2 separate regions of the Homo sapiens genome follow, and region 2 is linked to region 1. Evidence: fine-mapped expression QTL. A gene starts in region 1. The other region holds a variant in brackets. All regions are shown on one strand. Distances are from middle to middle.

Evidence for each region. PIP is the estimated chance that this variant, and not a neighbour inherited with it, causes the effect.
Region 2: its variant is the best candidate, but not a certain one, in a credible set for the expression of GPR156 in gastroesophageal junction (GTEx, PIP 0.52).

What each region holds. Positions count from the first base shown.
Region 1 is chr3:120,282,763-120,287,153 of GRCh38, reverse strand. GPR156 (G protein-coupled receptor 156) reads left to right here and starts at 1,932. Exons shown (of 10, transcript NM_153002.3): 1 at 1,932-2,125. It overlaps LOC124909418 (a long non-coding RNA gene), which reads right to left and starts at 1,998. Exons shown (of 2, transcript XR_007096029.1): 1 at 17-1,998.
Region 2 is chr3:120,508,826-120,513,216 of GRCh38, reverse strand. It overlaps LOC107986121 (a long non-coding RNA gene), which reads right to left. Exons shown (of 3, transcript XR_001740868.2): 3 at 1,865-2,219. It also overlaps the pseudogene RPL34P9. Among named protein-coding and RNA genes, the nearest start is that of FSTL1, 60 kb to the right of the region's middle. The variant G/A (reference allele first, on the strand shown) is at 1,854.

The DNA.
Region 1 (4,391 bases):
TCGCTCATTCACTTACCACTTCCCTGGGCAGGGGAAGATCCCCTGGTTCCCTGTTGCTCCCAGGTGGGCTGTTGTCCTGTCTTGCTTTTCCTTGTTCTCTGTGGGTCAGGTTGTTTCCTTGATTAATCCCAATGCGAGTACCCGGATGTTTCAGTTGAAGGTGTTGTATCTACTCGTCCCTTCTGTTCCTCTCCGTGAGAGCCATGTACATTACCTGCTTCTGGTCAGCCATCTTGGCCACTCCCCATCCTTATGAAAGTTTACACTGTATTACAATTGCACAGGAAAGTTACTGCAGGTTTGGGAGTGGGACAGAGGATAGAGGATGTTGGCTTGTTTTGTCAAGAGAGTGACATTCTTAAGTCTATGTTGGTGGTGGGGACAGATAGGAGGCAAGAAAATCAGTTAGGAAATTATTGAAACAATTCAGCCCCAGATAATCGAAGCTTATCAAGAGCAGCAGTGTGAGAATGCAGAGAAGTGGACAGTTGCCAGAAACATCTCAGAGGTAAACATGGCAGGCCTGGAAGATGAAAACCTTCAGTGCCTGGCAACTGAGGGGTTGGAAATACTCCAATCTCAGAAAAGAGAATACTGGGATTGGAGGTGGGGGCCAAGCTGGGAGAAAGATTTCAATGTCTTGCAGAATATAGAGAGGGGTTGATGAGAATAACAGCCGAAGAGCCCAGGGGAATTCCCAGGTTAAAAAAAAAAAGCCCCACAGAGATCAGAAGGGCAAATCCTCAATCTAGAGCCACAGAAGTGAAGATTTGGCTCTAGACTCTGAAGTCAGCTCTCCTACGGAAAAAAGATGGACCCAGGCCTTTTTAACTCAGGCAGCCCCCATGGAGGAGAGAGATGGTCCTCCTCAGTTTCTGCACGTTCCAAATGAAAGGGTCCTTCTGTGTAGAATGAGAGATCTGGAGAGTCCTGGGTAAAATCTCAGACATAATTCTTTCTTCTGAGAAACCAGCTTTTTGCTTACTGCCTTGAGGAAAACCTTGTCTATCTTTCTTTCTTCCTCTTGTTTTCCCCCTCAGTAGAATCCTGTGAAAAGAAGTCTTTGGGTATCACAATGTGTAAAACAGTTAAGAATGTAGCCACTGTCTTGTCACAGTGGGGTCTGCGGACCTGGCCTCTCTCTTCCCGTCCTCTACAACCAAAGATTTCCTCTGCGCAGTTGTAAAAATGTGGAATGTCCTAATGCACATAAATAGGTCTGAGATTTTAAAATAAATGAAACAAATATAATATGGAAAGTCTAAGTGGATTCCCAAGACCATTTCCAGGTCTCCCCTCTATGTTTCTCCTTGAGGGTGTCTTAAACACAACATCTCACACATATTTTTAAGCGGAAGACAGTGGGCTGGGTGCGAACATCTTGTTTGTGGCCTCCTGTAAGCATTCTTGGAAAAAGAAACGTACTTGTCTTTCTGATTATAAAATAAGCAAAAGCTCAACGTAAAGAATTTGGCAACTCCAGAGAGTATAAAATAAGAAAACTAATTGGTAACTCCGACGCCACTCCAGAAATAAAAATGAGCATTCGCGGAGAATCCTTCCAGTCTCCTTACCGAGGCCGGCTAGGGACCTGAATCTGAAGCTCCTCGCCCCGGGGCCAGCTCCTGCGGCAGCCGCTGGCTCGAGGCCCGGGAAGGGGCGCTGAGGGGAAGGCGCCCCCCAGGGAAGGTCTCTGAGGAGACGGCCGGAGGCGGGGCCGCCCCAGGGGACTCGGCGGCGACGCAAGGAGAAAGATCCGAGGAGCTGGAGGAGCCGTGAGGCGCGTGGAGTCTGCAAGGTCCCGGAGCCCTCCCGGCCCTCGCGGGAGAGCAGGGTCGAGGCGCGCCACGCGGGCGGCGCCAGGGAGGGGCGGGCAGGCGTGGCTCAGCCAGTGCCCCGGCCAGAGGCGCCCGGCGCCCCGCGCACACCTCAGAGGCCTGCGCCGCCGTCCCGCCGCCTCCACGCCAGGCTCCCGGCGCGGCGATGGGCGCGGGCCCCTGTCTCTGCCCCGGCCCGCCCCTTCCCGCCCCTTCCAGCCCCGCGAACGCGCGAGACGCCGGGGGACCGTGGGCGTCCTGCACATAGCAGCGGGCTTGGCGCTTCTCGGCGGTCCGACGCTGATGAGGTGAGCACAGCGACCTTAAGGATCCACAAAACTTCAAACACTTAATTATTAAGTGAAAGTGGAAAGGGGGAGGGGCTTTCTCTCCCTTTCCAGAATCTGGGCAGTTTGTTTGGAACCGGTAAAGAAACTCTCATAGGAACTTGAGGTGAGCAGGGGTCACGCATCAGGGATGCGAGTGGCAATTTCAGTGGAAGAGACGGGAGAGTACTGTAATTTGGTGTGAAGATGGGGCCGTGGGTTTTCTGCTGAATAAGCGACCGGCTGTGCTGAAAATGAGAGATCCCGAAACAGTTTCCCACCGCCTGTAGACTTTCCAGAGTCTCCTCACGCCGAATCTGCTTTGCAGGGCATGTTCACCCCCAGGGTGTAGAGTGGCGGGCACGATGGGCTCCCCCATGGAGATTGCAAAGTCCTGAAAAGGGACAATTGTATTGCACTGCGTCTGTTGAACTGCCTTGCTTCTGGGCATGAGGGAGTCACCTGGAAGCTGCAACATCCTTGTACCCTGGCAAGCAGCCCTTTCCAAGTTAGCTCTGTCAGAAACTAGAGGCCTCTAGGTAGAACTCAAGGTATCCATGTACTCGTGAAGAATACAAACCTTGAGGTTTTTAAAATCGAATTTTGTTAAGATTTCAGGATAGAAATCTGGGAAGAGAAGTCATGGCATGGCATAACTTACCCCTTTGTTAGTTTTCTAGGTACATGCATGCTTGAATTAGAGGTAAATGATGCCCTAGCCTATCATAAAATGTCTTTCCTGGTGTAGTTCTTTAAACCAGAATATGGAGGATAACATTACATTTTTGCATCCTAGATAAAAGGGAAAGATTTTCAGATGGGGCTTACACAGCGGGAGAAATTGTTGATATAGTTGTATTAGGCAGCAAGGCCTGCAAAGAAAAACTTCTTTTTCTCCACCAGTGGCTGAATTCTGCACAGAATGTCTCCTCGCAGTCTGGGTAGCAGCCCGGCTTGCAAAAACAGTGCTTCTTTCATTGCTGCAGGTGGGGCAAATGCGCTTGCGGATAAATGGCTGGGGAAGCGTTTGCTTACAGGTTAAGGCAATTTGAGTCTGGAGAATAAAGTGCTTTAGCAGGCTGTGCTTGAGTTAGGTGTCCCTTGTGAGGAATAGAGGTGGCTTTCTGGTCCCCATTTTGCCAGCCTAATTCCCCTTCAGGGACACTACTGTCTCTGGAATGTTCCCTCTGTTTCCCCTTCTCTTCCACCCCCAGCTTTTAGCTTCTCCCCATTCCCCAGTAAAGTCTAGAATTGAGCCTGGTCAGAGTCAAAGTTCTGATAGCCTAGGGATATAGAACTTCAAGCCTGGTGAAGGCAGAAATGAGACCTAGGAGAGACCCAAGATGGGTGAGATGAAACAACTTTCAGCCTAGAAGGCTCTCAAAAGAGTGGAAAAATAATGATTGAGGGAAACAGATTCTCTGGAAAGGAGAATAGGTGCTTAAGTGTTTGTTTTCAGCTGAGGGTTTTAATATTTCCATTTTTGTTGTTTAACCATAAGGGAATTTCCATTATAGGGTAGGAGGAGGATGAGGCCTTCTCTGAAAACTGCATCCTTCTCCTTGAATTTGCATTTTATTCCATTCTTATGTAGGTTTCAGAGATTAATTGGGGGAAGGGGGAGAGAGGAAAGAAGCCAGAGGCTCTGACATGCTGCAGAAACAGTGCAACGTGGACTGACTTGGGCTGCAAAGGTGGATTTGGGGGTTGAAAGAAATGTTCTACATTTAGTTGAAAAAAAAAAATCAGAGCCTTTATTTTGCAAAGGTCTTGAGAATCAGAACATTCATGTTTAGTTGCTGATGAATTTTGCCTGATAAAGGATGCAAATCACTATCTCACCTTTTTTTCTCCAGTACTTTATTATGAAAAATTTTAGACATACAGAGATGTTTTCTACCTCTCATTTTATAAACTTATTATCTTAAAACAAACTTGTTAATAAAAATCAGTGTTTAGAATCCAGACATATGTGATCTGGTCCTGGACAGAGCTTGAATCAGAAGGTGTTTCAAATATAGATGTGTGAAGGATATTAACATTTTAAGAAAAAAATATGGATCTTATTCTTCTGACTTTCCCATAAGAATCTTGAGCAGACCCCTTAACTGCCTTCTTTTTCCCATTCTTAAAATGTCAGTCAGTTGGATGATATTACTCTCCTGCTTAACACCCTCCAATGGCTTCCCCTCACACTGTGAATAACATTCAACTCTCCACCAGGGCTTGTGATTTGGTCTGGTGCCCT
Region 2 (4,391 bases), 230 kb before region 1:
ATAACCAAAAAAGCTTCATTTTTTAAATTTAGCTTTCTTACTTTCTTGTGCCTTCAACACCTTTGAAACAATTTTCTCCTTCTTGATAAGGAAAGCACCTTTCAACTTGTCACAGGCACATTTGGCACACATGGGACACCTTAGGCCCTGCTGACATGTTTTTTCATACTGGCCAATCATAAGAACTTTAGGTCTCACAGCAGAAATCCCTCAAAGTCGGCCTGGGCACACACCACATGCAGATTTTGGTGCTTTTCCATCCTTCTTGGTGTAAAGGTAAACAATTCTATTACTAGGGGTTCAGTACAGCAGAGTTCTGTTAGAGGCTGTTGTAGGAAGCCTAAGACAATATGTCAAACACTGACATTCTGAGCGCTTCCAGACAGCATCCCTGGAAGAGCTGACCTTGTTTTCTTGAGATGTCTTTTCTTTAAAGCAGAGTGCAGTAATATTTCTATTGATTCATTACTGTATTATATTAGTAAAAGTGTTATGTGCAGAATATTTTCTGCTACAGGTGGCAGAAATGGCTGAGACATCTGTTAGAATGTGAGAAAATTATCCATCAATCAAAAGCTACTAGAGGAAATAGCTATTTAAGCATGGAAGCCCTTTATAGAGTTTTATAAGAATTCAGGCACATACAATCTTATTCTGCATTAAAAAAAATCCACTCAGGTAATTAATTTTTGCCCTCTCAGAGGTGTGGTATTGAGAAGGCAATATGTCAGCTGGAATATGTGCAAAGGTGGGACCGGTATCTATCATTTCCTCTTTCATTTCTATGAATCATTTCTATGATACCATTTCTATGAATTTCTATGAATCCTTTTGTTACCAGTGGCAAGTATCCGAGTTACTGGCAGTGAATCTGTATGGGTCTGAAGCAACCTCAATACTTGCCTCCTGAGAAGAAAGAATTCAACTGAGGGGCATAAGGCAGAAGGAGAGACTGAGGCAAGTCTTAGAGCAGGAGTAAAAGTTTATTTAAAAGCTTTACGGCCAGGCGAGGTGGCTCACACCTGTAATCCCAGCACTTTGGGAGGCCAAGGCAGGTGGATCACCTGAGGTCAGGAGTTCGAGACCAGCTTGGCCAACATCGTGAAAACCCTTCTCTACTAAAAATACAAAAATTAGCTGGGCTTGGTGGCACGTGCCTGTAATTCCAGCTACTCGGGAGGTAGAGACAGGAGAATTGCTTGAACCAAGCAGGCGGAGGTTGTGGTGAGCTGAGATCATGCCACTGCACTCCAGCTTGGGTGACAGAGTGAGACTCTGTCTCAAAAATAAAATAAAATAAAATAAAAAAGCTTTACAAAAGAAATGAAAGGAAAAAAGCACACTTGGAAGAGGGCCAAGTGGGCAATCTGCAACACAAGTGCACACTTGTTTTTCATGGTGCATGGTTTGACCTTTGAATTGGGGTTTTTACATGCTGGCATACTTTGGGGGTTTTGTGTTCCTTCTCCCTTAATTCTTCTCTTGGGGTGAGCTGTCCACATGTGCAATGGCCTGCTAGCACTTGGGAGAGGAACATGCACAATGTGTTTATTGGAATTGTACGCATGCTCACTTGGGGCATTCTTCCCTTACCAATCTAGCATTCCTAGAGGAAGGTTATATACCAGTTAAACTCCATCATGGCATGCTCGAGCTCACTCACCCAACTCCTGAGATCTTATTGGGAAGCTACTGATCACCAGTTTCAGGTTTTTTCTATCTATAGGGAGACTGCCTTTCCCTGGCACTGGCTGCAACCAATTATTATTTTAGAGATACAGTTAACAACCACCTGACCCTCATCTGATGGTCGCCTGAGCTTCCTAGTTGGGTTTGGCGGGGAGCCCTCTCCC[G/A]CTCTGCTCATGTCTTACTAGCTACCTACTATAGCATTTCCCCCCTCAAGAGTCCAAGACCCCAGTTATTTGGAGAAAATGGATGAAGGTGAGCCTTCTGTAATGGCTTCCTGCTGACAGAGGTTGGGGGGTTGTAGGTGGTTCTGTGAGTCTTGGCCTCTTGCTAGTTGTCAGAGCAGGAGGCTGTTTCCATGGATTGGGGAAACTGGTATCCAGCCAGGTCCAAGGGAGAGAGGGGCAGGATTTTGCCTCTGTTGTGTCTCACTGATGGGCAGTCTAGGGGGTCCCCCATAGAAGGGTAACTCTTGAATATTGAGAGGACACTATCCCTCACTGAGGTTCATCTGGAGCTCAATGGCCTAAAGGCTAGAGGAGACAAATCAGGTTATTAGAATTAGAGGAATGTTAAAACAAAATAATGGGGTGAGGACAGCCCCAAAAAAGAACCCTGAGGCTGCCTACACACCCAGGTAACTGGTGGCTATAGTCATGCCTACTAAGACTTGGGTACATGGGGTTGATAGCAGATTCCAATATGTGCTCAGAATTAGAATACTGATCCAGATTTTTACATTACCCATCCCTTTTGTTTCTTCTGAGCTGCAGCCAGAGATCACTGGCTGGTTCACAGGAATAAGCAGGATTACTCTAAAATGCAGGCAAAAACTTAAAAATAACTGATGAGACTAGCATCTATTAATAGAAAAATAACAGGTGTATCATAATTTTTGAAACACACTTTTTCTCTTTCCAGTCCTCATTTTTATAAAAAATCATGATAAAACTGATTTGTTTGCAAAATAAACTTTAGTTGTCTTATACTTGGCCTGATTATTTGCATAAAGCACAGCAAGAATAATTATTTGCCTAATAGGCTCCTGTTTAAATTGGCTTTGATGGAACTTCATTCCATAAGGAATCTCAGACAAGACTTTTTTTAAGGCTTAAACCCAGCCACAGTTTTATACCATCAAATACCTGAATGAGTTGGTAAATTCCTCTCCCTTGAGGTCCCAAGATAACCTGGGGCTCCTGAGCCTGTTAGAAAGTGGCATTCTTTACAGACCACAGGTTGGGAACCCTGTACAGGGACTGTGTAGACAAGGTATGAAGCCAGTTTTCACAAGGGGCTTTTATTGGCTATATAAGTCAAATTTGATTCCTTAAAGGAATGCATATCATTCCAGTCAAAGCCTTCGTAAAATAACCAGCTTCTCCAGTTGTGTTCTGTTGCAAAAGACAACAGATTCTTATTGTACTTATGCAAATAACTATACTGCCATAAGTTAAGAATACTCACAAGTAGTTTCCAAATTTTGAAGAAAGCAGGTAGAGAGAAACAAATATGCTCGAATTTTGTTTACAGGAGTACTCAATTATTAAAAGCTGTAAATAGCTCAAAAGAAAAGTTTTCTTGGTTTTGGAAAACAAAGGATTAGCAACATTTTAAGCAAAAAGTCATAAAAGGATTATTTCAATCTTCTATTAGTTTAGTCCATGCAGTTAACTTTTGTTCTGCTTGATATTCATGAACATTTTAGCTCTCCAATAAGAGTCCTGAAAGTTTTTTCTCTATTCTAATGTCTCAATCTTCAAAGTTATCAGAAGCCTGTATTTAGGAGCACCTGTTAGAGTTCTATAGCTGATTATAAAACCACCTTTTAAAGAGGGTTAAAACAAGACAACAATTATCTGTTAATGACAAAAAGTCTTAGGGTAGCCACAATCAAAGACACAATTGACAAAGAAATTTATTACCCCTGAGGCACAAAACAATTAAACATAATTATAATTATTCCTAATAATGTATACTATGTTACATTAGAATTATAGGAGTTTCACATAATTTTGGAACATGTACTGATAACACTTTAATCAAAAGCAGATTAATACTTTAATAAAACTATGTTGTGCTTTAATTCCAGTGTTTATGAATAAACTGAATAAAAGTCCTTTAATTTTGGGTAATTTTCACACATAGAATTTCTTTTATAGGATTAATTTTTCACAAACCTTCCACAACTTGCTCAAACCTTCAGCTTTATCCTATCTAACATAAAACAATCCTTTAACCCTCCAAACTAGGCAAAACTTACATTCCCATACCTTCTTACAATCTTTTAACAAAAGCACATTCTACTTTCCTTGCGTACCTTACATGTAAGACTGCTTTTCCAGTAGTCTCAAGAACATGTTACATGGCTAACTGTTCACAACTTTTACTTTTGCGAAAAACCTGATAAGTAAGCGATTCACTAGACAGAAGTGCATATAAGGTCTCTTTCCAGCATACCTGGGGGAATGGCTAACTCTGTAAGTCCCCAGGCCATGCCTAGCTTTAAAATAGTCAAGTTGTACAGTTAAAAGTCAAAGTGGCAGTCTATAAAGCATTTATTTAGTAGGTCTAAAAACCTTTAAAATTGCAGAACATTTCTTTCATAAATTCCCTTTCACAAATTTTTCACAATTTACACAGATCATCTATGACAGGCTTGGACTTTCTGACTTGTCCTAAATATCCCTCTTTTTAAAGAACCA